3 separate regions of the Homo sapiens genome follow, and regions 1 and 2 are each linked to region 3. Evidence: fine-mapped expression QTL. A gene starts in region 3. Each other region holds a variant in brackets. All regions are shown on one strand. Distances are between the middles of the regions.

What was found. PIP is the estimated chance that this variant, and not a neighbour inherited with it, causes the effect.
Region 1: its variant is fine-mapped to the expression of SLC5A4 in cerebral cortex (GTEx, PIP 0.97).
Region 2: its variant is fine-mapped to the expression of SLC5A4 in sun-exposed skin (GTEx, PIP 0.94).

What each region holds. Positions count from the first base shown.
Region 1 is chr22:32,424,419-32,428,770 of GRCh38, reverse strand. All of the region lies in intron 13 of BPIFC (BPI fold containing family C), which reads left to right. Among named protein-coding and RNA genes, the nearest start is that of RTCB, 14 kb to the right of the region's middle. The variant G/A (reference allele first, on the strand shown) is at 2,570.
Region 2 is chr22:32,311,181-32,315,180 of GRCh38, reverse strand. It overlaps a transcript of SLC5A4 not described here. Among named protein-coding and RNA genes, the nearest start is that of RFPL3, 45 kb to the left of the region's middle. The variant G/A (reference allele first, on the strand shown) is at 2,477.
Region 3 is chr22:32,253,530-32,257,529 of GRCh38, reverse strand. SLC5A4 (solute carrier family 5 member 4) reads left to right here and starts at 2,183. Exons shown (of 15, transcript NM_014227.3): 1 at 2,183-2,335; 2 at 3,317-3,388. The coding sequence starts at 2,201. The region is part of intron 2 of SLC5A4-AS1 (SLC5A4 antisense RNA 1); the gene reads right to left.

The DNA.
Region 1 (4,352 bases), 170 kb before region 3:
CCTGCCACCACACCTGGCTAATTTTTGTATTTTTTAGTAGAGATGGGGTTTCACCATGTTGGCCAGGCTGGTCTCAAACTCCTGACCTCAGGCGATCTGGGGCCTCGGCCTCCCAAAGTGCTGGGATTACAGGCGTGAGCCACCATGCCCAGAAATACAATGTTTTGTTTGTTTGTTTGTTTGTTTAAAGTAGTATGGTTTCCCAGAAAGAAAAGGTTTTACGAAGGTTTACTCGCATTTACCAAGCCCTTCAAAGCAGTCCTGACTTCTTCATTAGCTTCCTTTAGGCACAATAGGCACAGTGCCTAGAGCCACAATACTTTAAAAGCCCATGAGAGGCCGGGCAGGGTGGCACACACCTGTAATCCCAGCACTTTGGGAGGCCAAGGTGAATGGATTGCCTGAGCCCAAGAAGTCGAGGCTGCAGTGAGCTATGATCTCAATCTGGGCGACAGAGCAAGACCCTGTCCAAAAGCACACACACACACACACACGCGCGCGCACACACACACACACACACGTTTTAATGTATTTTAAAATAATAATTTTTAAAAATGAATACAATTTAGACTTGATCATACTTATCTTTATATCAAATAGTTATAAAATATAATTTTCATTTTTTTTAACAGAAGAAAGGTCCCCAAAGACAAAAGTGCCTCAGGCCTCCAGAAGTCATGAGGTGACCCCATTTCCAGGGAATCAGGCTGATGAAACTCTGAACCATGAAGAGTGATCTTTATCTGGCAGTTCTTTTTTGTTTTGTTTTGTTCTGTTTTGTTTTGAGACAGAATCTCGCTCTGTCACCCAGGCTGGAGTGCAGTGGCACGATCTGGGCTTACTGCAACCTCTGCCTCCCAGGTTCAAGTGATTCTCCTGCCTCAGCCTCCTGAGCAGGTGGGACTACAGGCGCACGCCACCACGCCCAGCTAATTTTTGTAGTTTTAGTAGAGACGGGGTTTCACCATGTTGGCCAGGATGGTCTTGATCTTTTGACCTCGTGATCAACCCACCTTGGCCTCCCAAAGTGCTGGGATTACAGGTGTGATATTTGGCAGTTCTAATACAGAGGATGAAAGCCAGAGAGCATGAGGGTGAGGGGGGAAGGAACCAAAGGTGAGAAATTGGCAGCATCTGAGATCGGCCACGAGCGGAAGGAAGGAGAGAATCTGGATAGCATTGCCTGAGCATCGGGACCGTGATGCTCAGTCTGTTGGGAAACAAAGAGGAAAGAACCAGGAGGAAAGGAAAGGCTGGAAATGGGGAGTGATGCGGGGCGGGGCACAGGGGCAGGGCTGCTAACTGAGGCAGAAGGTTCCTAGAGAAGGTAGAAACAACACTTGCATCTGAGCAGGTGTCTGGTTTACTGGCAGGATCTCAAGGAAGAATTTAATCATGATTCAACTTCAGGGTTGTGGCAAGAAGGTGCAAAAGACTTTAAGAAGCATGGAGACCAGGTTCACTTTTCTGCTTAAATCAAACTGAGCCTTATCTCTAATGTTTCTATAATACTAGTAAGCAACAGCACGTTCAATGGCTGTTATGTTTATTTATGGGAGTAATAGAAAAAACTGTTTTAAGCCGATAAATTTACATCATCCCGGAAATGTGTGAATTCATTCTCTTGGCTTCCTACAGTCCACAGAGTTCTTTGACCTCATGAACATGAACCCTGAAATTAGGACCTCTGGCTTGTTGTCTGTTGCCCAGCAGTCTCCTGGAAATTCTCCGCTGGGCAGACTTCTGGTGCTCTGATGCCTTAGCTGGGTCTGAGCAGGGCTGGCTACATAATTTGCAGGGCCCACTGCAAAATGAAAATGCAGAGCCTCTTTTCAAAAGGATTAAGAATTTCTTTTTTCTTTCTTTCTTTTTTTTTTTTCAGACAGAGTCTTGCTCTGTTGCCAGGGCTGGAGTGCAGTGGCACGATCTTGGTTCACTGGAGCTTCTGCACCCCGGGTTCCAGTGATCCTCCTGCCTCAGCCTCCTGGGTAGCTGGGATTACAGGCGTGTGCCACCACACATGGCTGATTTTTGTATTTTTAGTAGAGACGGGGTTTCGCCATGTTGGCCAGGCTGGTCTCGAACTCCTGACCTCAGGTGATCCACCCGCCTCGGCCTCCCAAAGTGCTGGGATTACAGGCGTGAGCCACCGTGCCTGGTCAAGAATTTTAAGATAGAGATGGCAAGGCATTAAACCAAGCACAGGGGGCTTCTAAGCACAAGTGAGGGTGTCTCCTGCATGGGGTGTTATAGCAAACCTCAGGCAGTGAGCAGGCTGGGGGCAAGGCAGGTGGGCTGGGCCTCACTCAGGTTTAAAGCAGCCAAACCAGGAGGCAAGACTTTGCAGAGGAGCCAAGGCTGTGTTGAAATGACAGCCCTGGGCTCTGGCAGTAGGATCCCTAGCCCTGCCTCCCATGCAGGCTGCCCCAGCTGGCTCCTCCACTCCTGGGCTCCCCAGGCTTTTCAAGATGAGCTGGTTTGGTCTTGGGTGATATCAGAGAGATGCAGCAGGAAAAGGATCAAGTGGGTGGAGATCAGTGGAACATCCCTGAGAAGAACCAGGGAACAC[G/A]GGGGCTCCAAATTACTCTCCCCAGAACAACATGGCCTCTCTAACTATCCCCTGCCTGAATGTGCCTCTTCCTGGAGCTGCTCGGGGCTGGCTGCATAGACAGCAAATACAGAAATCAGAGACAAACCCCGTGTTGGTGGTCTAGACAGACTGTAGGATCACAGGCTTTGGAGTCAGACTAGCTGGTCTGGTTCTGATCCCAGTGCTGCCACTAATTAGCTCTGGCATCTCAGGCGAGTTTCTTAACCTCTCTTGGACTCCATTTCCTCCTCTGTAAAATGGTGTAATAAAGACTACTTCAGGAGAAGGTTGTGAGAAGTATGAGAGTTAATACAGGTAAAGTGTGTGGTTGCCATTCAATAGCTCTGTGATCTTGGGTGTAAGTTATTTAATCTCCATAAAGCATAAAACGGGAATAATAGTACCTACCTCCAGGACCATTCATTTAATCTATTGACCATTATTGTGCACTGTTCCAGGCCCTGGAGACACGGAGTTGTAAGGTTTAAATGAAATGACAGAGGCACCGGGCTTGGCACGGGACCTAATAGACGGTAAAGGCCCAATAATAAAGAATAGTCATGAACTGTACCAAAAAAAGACTATTTCTTAGCTGTTGGCTTTGACTATGATTTCAAATTTAGAGATAGCCTCAGCCAGGACAAGGAGGTGCTCAATCGTACAAGATCATTTCCAGAGTCCCCTGATTCAGAATACACTTCGCTCCCCTGTATCCTGCCCATGGATAGCTAAGAAATAGTCCTTTTTTGTATAATTCATGGCTATTGTTTATTATTGGATCTTTGTCATCTACTAGGTCCTGTGCCAAGCCCAACACCTCTATTATTTCATTTTAAATCTTACAACTCTGTGTCTCCAGGGCCTGGCACAGTGCTCAATAAATGTCAGTAGATTAAATGAACGGTCCTAGAGGTAGGTACTATTATCCCCATTTTACAGTTTGTAGAGATTAAATAACTTACTGAAGGTCACAGAGCTATTGAATGGCTGAGCCAGAACTTGAACCTGGGTGAGTCCGCTTTCAAAGCAGTGAGTATTTACTTACCACAGTATACTGCCTTTGATGTAGTGAAGAGCTTTGACTTAGAAAATAAGGCAAGGCCAGGCGTGGTGGCTCACGCCTATAATCTCAGCACTTTGGGAGGCCGAGGCAGGTGAATCATCTGAGGTCAGGAGTTCGAGACCAGCCTGGCCAACATGGTGAAACTCCATCTCTACTAATAATACAAAAATTAGCTGGGCATGGTGGTGCATGCCTGTAATCCCAGCTACTCTGGAGGCTGAGGCAGGAGAATCGCTTGAATGCAGGAAGCGGAGGTTGCAGTGAGCCGAGATCACACCACTGCACTCTAGCCTGGGCGACAAGAGCAAAACTCCGTCTCAAAAAAAAAGGAAGAAGAAGAAGAAGAAGAAGAAGAAGAAGAAGAGGAAGAAGAAGAGGAAGAAGAAGAGGAAGAAGAAGAGGAAGAAGAAGAGGAAGAAGAAGAGGAAGAAGAAGAAGAAGAAGAAGAAGAAGAAGAAGAAGAAGAAGAAGAAGAGAAGAAGAAGAAGAGGAGGAGGAGGAGGAGGAGGAGGAGGAGAAGAAGAAGAAGAAGAAGAAGAAGAAAGAAAATAACACTTAAGATTTAGGAAATAAATACCTTTATACCCTTGCCTGGAAGAGGAAACCCATAAGCATGGAGTCACGCTAAGTTGAAACAGGCAGCATGCCCTTTTTCAATATTCAGCATTGATAAAAGAAAGAGAAAACACTGGAACTGGT
Region 2 (4,000 bases), 58 kb before region 3:
TCCATTTACAACTTGACCCCTGATTTCTCTTCATTTGCATTTGTTATGCTTCTGCTCATCCTTTTTATGAATTGTGGTAGAATGCACATAACATATAACCATTTTAACCATTTTTAAGTATACAGTTCAGGGGCATTAAGTACCTTCTCACTGTAGGGCAACTGATATGGTTTGGCTGTGGCTGTACCCAAAGCTCATCTTGAATTGTAACTCCCACAATTCCCATGTGTCATGGGAGGAACCCAGTGGGAGGTAATTGAATCATGGGGGCAAGTCTTTCCCATGCTGTTTTCATGATAGTGAATAAATTTCATGAGGTCTGATGGGAATTTTCCTGCACAAGCTCGCTCACTCTCTCTGTCCCTTTGCCTGCCACCATCCACATAAGACGTGACTTGCTCCTCCTTGCCTTTCACCATGATTGTGAGGCCTCCCCAGCCATGTGGAACTGTAAGTCCAGTTAAGCCTCTTTCTTTTGTAAATTGCTTGGGTATGTCTTTATCAGCAGCATGAAAATGGATTAATACAGCAGCCATCACTGCCATCTATCCACAGAACTTTTAAAAAAATCATCTGCCCATCCTTTTACATTAAACTTTTCTGAATCATTCTTGATTTGCCTAAGGGTGTCCTTAATTTTTTTAAGAAGGGGTCATGGGAACTATAATTCAAAAATATGTTCAACATGTTTTTCTGTTGACTTTATATTTGAAAGATGGTTCATTGGGCTTTAAATTCTTGGTTCATTCATTTATTTGATAAACATTATTAAGCCCCTACAGTATGCCAGTTACTGTCCTAGGCCCTGGCAATGCAGCAATGTGTAAAACACACAATCACCTTAACCCTCTTGTAGCTAACTTTCTATGTGGGGAAGACAAACAATAAATTATTCAAGTAAGTACAATAGGTGGTATGCTGGATAGAGGTGTGTGCTATGGAGAAAAAAAAGTCGGTGATGGAGAGTACCTGGCTTTGTTCTGTGAAGCTGAGGAGATGGCCCCACGGAATCTCTCACCCTTAGCCCCTGTACACATTCCCACTGATGCAAAGAGTGGAGAGTAGGTTCTCCTTCTTGGCGTATCTCTCACTCTGGGGAGGTGGGCTTTGCTGGCTTTGTCGGAGCCACTCCCTTGACTTCTCCATTTGCCCAAAAAACATGTAGTTTGGTTGAAGATGGTTTATCAGTTAAGAACTGTCACCAGTTGCAATTTATGCAAGTAAAGGAAATTTGACTGCAGTGGTGTGGAGGGGGCAGTCCAGGGCTGCCACCAGAACCCAGTTTCTCCCTGCCTTCTACTCCACCTGTGTTAGTGAGCATCCTTCATTCTCATGCATGCAAGATAGTTCATCTTCCCCTGGATTTATGTCCCCTTCCCAATAGACTCCCACTTACATGACATTGGCCAGACTGGGTCATGTGACCACCCCTGCTTGCAAGGGAGTCTGGGAAGGTAAGTAGTTGTGGCTGGGCAATTGCTCTTGTAATAGACACAGGGCAGTGGGGTTCATGCTGCCTGCCACAGATGGAGTTTGTATTTCTTTTCCTCATTGTCTTGTTTGCAACTTGACTCTGCCATTCAAAGCTATAAGTGCCCAGCAGACCTGTTTCCACACTGTAGATCTTGTTCCACTGCTCTCCTGGCTCTTCCCTATTCCAGGAGCATCTTGGTATCTTCTCTATAGCTTTGTATGACATGGTCATGGTCATATCTTAGTGTCATTCCAAAATACAGGATCGTTTTTGTCAGTATGAATGGTATCTGTATCTGTGTTTAATATTTAGTTTGTTATAGCAAGGGTGACAGTATAATTTATCATCCAAATCAGAATACTTTTGAGGGTAAAAGGGGAACAACATTAAAAATTATGTCAGAACAACAAGTGTCAACTGAGACTGTCCCAAGCCATGACATATAATTACCCTAGTAACTGCTGAGGTCAATGCACACTGTTGCATTTTATAAATTGATCTGATGTCTTACAGGTTGACTATTATACCTCTATGTATGCACTCTCCATTCTACTAATTAACCTGTTGATTCTATTAAATTTTCTATGTAAGTTATCCACAATTAACTGTAATTTTGGTTCTTCTATTCCAGTCCTAGTCTATGCTTTTTTTTCTTGCCTTATTGCATGAGCCAGAGCTCTAGTACTATATGGAGCTATAATGATAGCGACATTTTTGTCTCGCTTCCAGTCTTAAAGTCACATGGTTCACAACGTTCAGAAGACAAAACCCATGTGTTCAGAGGAAACCTGGATTCTTCTGGCACTGAGGCCAGAGAGAAATGTCCCCAGTGAGTCCCCATTGAGGAGACACCATGTGATATTTTTTTTCCTTGTATTTCCTCCAGAAAACCCTTTTGCTGTGCCTCAGGATGGGGGAGATGAGATCTGAAATACCCAGTGCAGCCTCCGAGAAGGACAACTTCTACAGAGATGCCAGGGACAGCCGAGGTGGTAGAGAAGG[G/A]AATGCTGCCTGTGCCCAAAGCCCCCTTCTGCGGACTTCTAAGATTACGAGCAAACTCAGGGGTAGGGGCTGGGGGTGCAGGGGAGGGGATTCTGAGCCACCTGTCCACAAGCGATAGTCCTGTTTTGGGCTGGTGGCTTCTGAGAGGTGACTCATTGTGGCCTCAGGATGACCAAGACAAAGCAACTCTGGCTGATTCCAGCCAGGAGGATTGAGGCCTGTGAGTTATACCTGTGGTTGAAAACCGAAGCTTCCCTTGCCCCTGCTCCCTCCAATAGCGGCCCCTTGGGGCTATTTGTGTCAGAATATTGAATGTGCGTGTGTGTGTGTGTGTGTGTGCGCGCGCGCGTGTGATTTGGGGTGTTCTTGTTTGGTTGGTTGGTTTTTATTGGGGCTTCCCCCCTCAAGTTCTCTGATGGGCGCGGGTTACCTTCTGGCTGGGGGTTCTCATCCGTGTCAATGTTCAGGCTGCAAGCTTCTTGCTAAGCACAGGGTACAGCCCCTCTGTGTCTCAGGGAGCACTGGGGATTTGAAAATGCCAGTCAGGGTTGGTTCTTACAGAATTCATTCCTGTAACAAAAATACTCAGGGACGCATCTCAGGCTGACCACAGGGCAGGTACCAAGTTAAGTGTTTTCATGCACTCTCCCTCTCACCACGTGGGAGGCAGGTATGATTAACCCCCTGCAGAAAAAGCTGCAGAAAAAGCTCACAGTGGGGAAGGGGGGTGCCCAGGCGCCACATGGCCAGGAGGAGACCAACCCCTCGTTTGACCTCAGGGGTGCAGGAACCCAAAGTCCAGGCTCCAACTCCCTGGACATGACGTGATCCCCAGCCAGGGCACACCCTGCACAATGCCAGGAGCATCTCCTTGATGCCTCCACAGGCTGTCGCCCTGAGTTCTCCACCATCACCGCCGAGAGCGCTGATCCACTCAGCACATTCTGGCTAAGCACCTGCTGTGCGCCAGGCCCCATGCTGGGCAGTGATGGGGACAGAAGATGAGTCAGACCTCATCTCTGCCCCTGGGGAGCCTCCCATCTGGTGGGAGACACAGACACATGGATCTTTGCTGGGCAGGGTAACGAGGCTATGGAAACCCAGAGAGGAGGGTTCTAGAAATCCACCCGCTTTGAATTGGGACTTCCACATAAGCCTAGATGCCCGTAACATCCACCCACAGAGCTAATCACCTCCACTCCTGCCCCGGGGCACCTATGAGATGGATGGCATCACCTAAATGATCACAAACATCTCCAAAGGCCACGCTGCCAGTGTAGACACACTCATTCCATGGGTGTTAGTGATACCAAATCTCCCCCAGTTCTTAGCTCAGGAGGCCCTGCTTAATAAACATGTGTGTCCTCTGACCCAGTTTCCTCATTTCATCAGACCTAGTGTTCTCACACTGACTGCCCATCCATTCACCAGACACAACAGTGAGCAAGGCAGGTCCCTGCTCACTGTGCTGGCTTTCTAGCTGGGGCGGGAATACAGTGAAGGTGGCAAGGGCGGCGAGTGTTC
Region 3 (4,000 bases):
AATGAAGTTAGCCAGGCATGGGTGGCATGTGCCTGTGGTCCCAGCTATGGTGGAGGCTGAGATGGGAGGATCACTTGAGCCCAGGAGGTTGAGGCTGCACTGAGCCATGCTTACCTCACTGCACTCCAGCCTGGGTGACAGAATGAGACCCTGTCTCTGAGAAATAAAAAGGAAATTCTACAATTCAACAGCAACAAAAATACAACATAAGGCTATTCTGGGTACACTGCCAATGAGGTAGTCCTGCTCCACAAGGAGCAGTGTAAAAAAGAATACAACATAATTTTTAAATGGATGAAGAAGTTGAATATATCTCTCTCCAAGAAGATGCACAAATGGCTATAAGCACATGAAAAAATCAACACTACTAGTGATTGTGTTAGAAGTGTAAATCAAAACTATATTGTGATACCCACTTGATACCTACTAGCCTGTCTATAATTAAAACATAAATGACAAGTATTGAAGAGGATATGGAGAAATTAACTCTCCTATGCACTGTGGAAAGAATGTAAAATAGTGCAGCTGCTGTGAACAACAGTTTGGCAGTTCTACAAAAAGTTAAACACAGAATTATCACATGCAATTCCACTTCTACATATAGACTCAAAAGAATTGAAAGTAGGGATTCAAACAGATCCTTGCACACCAGTGTTCTCAGCAGCATTATTTATAATAGCCAAGTATAGAAAGAACCTGAATGCCCATCAACAGTTGAATGGATAAACAAAATGTGGTATATATGAGTATTGGAATATTATTCAGCCTTAAAAAGGAAGGAAATTCTGATACATGCTACAATATGGATGAACCTTGAAAATGTCATACTAAGTGAAATAAACCAAAGAGGAAAATATTGTATGATTTCATTTGTATGAGGTACCTAGAATAGGCAAATTTATATAGTAAGAAAGAATAACAGAGGTTACCAGGGCCTGGAGAGAGGGAGGGATGGGGAGTTAGTTTTTAGTGGGTACATACTTCTGTTTGGAGATGATGAAAAAGTTCTGGAAATGGATAGTGGTAATGGCTGCATAACACTGTAAATGTACTTAATGCCAATGAATTGTACACTTAAAAGGGATTAAAATGGTAAATTTTATGCTATGTATGCTTTGCCACAATAAAAAATGAAGTATAAAAGAAGAATTTCTGGGCTTTCCGTTTTTTCATGTGTGTTTTTGGTTTTGTTTTTTTGTTGTTGTTTTTTTTGTTTGTTTTTGAGACAGGATCTTGCTCAGTTGCCCAGGCTAGAGTGCAGCGGCGTGATCATGGCTCACTATAGCTTTGACCTCCCAGTCACAGGTGATCCTCCCTCTTCAGCCTCCCAAGTAGCTGGGACCATACGTGTGCATCACCACACTCAGCTAATTTTTATAGAGACAAAGACTCCCTATGTTGCCCAAGCTGGTCTTGAACTCCTGGCCTCAAGTGATGCTCTCTCCTTGGCCTCCCAAAGTGCTGGGATTACAGGTGTCAGCCACCGCATAGGCTTTACTTCTAACTTCTTCTTGGCTGTAGTCCAGGAGTCTTGTTTCCTGAGTCCTCATGATCCCCATCACATGCTTCCAGGTTGATTCACTCTTTGTACAACCCTCTGACCCAGCGCTCTCCACAGCTCTGCCCTCAACTCACCACATATGGTGCTTGAAGAGCCACTTCCTTTCCTATACAGGCCACCAATGTCTTTTTGTGGCACATGAAACCCACTTCAGAGAAATGTGGGACTTTGGAATCCACGAAAGGCATAATTCACTTCACTGTCAAGGGATATAGCTCATTGGTCAGAAACTGTATCTGTTCTCTGAAGGACCATTGCATTCGGTCCCTCCTGGCTGGTTTCTGGTACCTTCTAGTCTGTCCTTCTCCCCTCCTTGTCTGTCTTCATTTCTCTCAAATCCCCCCTCCACCTGGGCAAATCTCTTTAAAGACCCTGTCTTTGCACTCAGAGAACGCCCCATGCTCCACCTCAAATTCTCCCCTCATTTCTGGCCCTGCATCCCTCATTCTCACACTCTACCTAGGCTAGCACTCACTGGTGGAGGGCTGGGGTGCCACAGCTTTGGAGAAGAGGTTTAAAGGTCTCCATATCCAGGAGCTGGCTCTGATATCTCGCCCCACCTGCCTGAGGCTGATCATTAACCCAGAACTTATATAAAGATGGCTCATGCGTGGAATGGGTATAGCACTGCCTGCAGCCATGGCCAGTACGGTTAGCCCCAGCACCATAGCTGAGACCCCAGAGCCACCTCCATTGTCTGACCACATCCGAAATGCTGCTGACATCTCAGTCATTGTCATCTATTTTCTGGTGGTGATGGCTGTTGGGCTGTGGGTAGGTGGAATCCCAGTGGCTTTTAGGGTGGGCACAAGGTTTAGGAGGGGGTATCTTAAGGGGGGAAGGGGTGTGGTTGTGACAAAGCTTTTCACAAATGTCATTGTGTTATCAGAATCATTTTCTTGTGTGTTGCATAAATAACGCTTACAATGAACTAATGTATTCTCCTAATAACCCCATCGTGTGCACACAGCCAGCACCGGGACCTTCAGATTTACTATGCATCCCCAACACCTGGCATAATGGACAAAGAGTGTATTTTTATTATCGCATTTCTTTCGCTTTCTTTTGTTGTTTGCTCACTTTCTGATTTAGTGAGTTGGACTCTTCATTTATGTTGAATTTTTTTATTTTAATAAATTTGAGACTGCAAATTTTTTTTTTTTTTGAGACGGAGTCTTGCTCTGTCGTCCAGGCTGGAGTGCAGTGGCGCTTGCTTGGCTCACTGCAAGCTCCGCCTCCTGGGTTCACGCCATTCTCCTGCCTCAGCCTCCCAAGTAGCTGGGACTACAGGCATGCGCCACCACGCCCGGCTAACTTTTTGTATTTTTAGTAGAGACGGGGTTTCACCATGTTGGCCAGGATGGTCTCGATCTCTTGACCTTGTGATCCACCCGCCTCGGCCCTCCAAAGTGCTGGAATTACAGGCGTGAGCCACCGTGCCCGGCCGAGACTGCAAATTTTATTGCAAGCATGGCTCAATGATACCTCACATGGTTTTCATAAGTGAGAATAATCAGAGCAGTTAAGATAGAAGTTAAGGATTATGATTTTTTTAAGTTCTTCCAGCCCTGGGTTTTTACAAAGCGACTGTTTTTGAAGTCCTTTAAAATTTGATGCTATAGAACACTTTCCAGCGAAATGTTTCTCTCTGTAGGAGTGCTGAAGTCACCCCTCTCAGCACCCTGGCCAGAGCCTCTGGGGTGTCTGGGTGCACTTGCTGGGGCTTGACCCTCACCTGTCTTCCCTTCTGCTCAGGCGATGCTGAAGACCAACCGAGGTACTATAGGAGGCTTCTTCCTCGCTGGTCGTGATATGGCCTGGTGGCCGGTAAGTGGATCGAAGTTTTCTGGAGATAAATTTCCTGTGTGTGTGCTTAAAACTGAATGTAGGCTGGGTGCGGTGTCTCACGCCTGTAATCCCAGCACTTTGGGAGGCCAAGGCTGGCAGATCATCTGAGGTCAGGAGTTCGAGACCAGCCTGACTAACATGGTGAAACCATCTCTACTAAAAATACAAAAATTAGCTGGACGTGGTGGTGTGTATGCCTGTAATCCCAGCTACTCAGGAGGCTGAGGCAGGATAATCACTTGAACCTGGGAGGCAGAGGTTGCAGTGAGCCTAGATCACACCACTGCACTCCAGCCTGGGCAACAAGAATGAAACTCCATCTCAAAAAAAAAAAAGTGAATGTAGACAACATTGGGAATGTTGATCATTTCTGATGTACATTGGTTGCCTACTCGCTGGGGCTCCTTTCCTAAATCCCCGACTTCATGGCTCCTCTCTGTAATTCCAGGACATTACAATATGTCACCTATTATGACAGCCGGTTCAGTCTGGCACTGAAGGACCCCAGCTCAGCCCCACCTTATATTCTTTTCTTCTGCTCCTTATCAAGAGTCTTCTCCTGGCTTCTTACAAGCTCTGCGCATTCCTGCT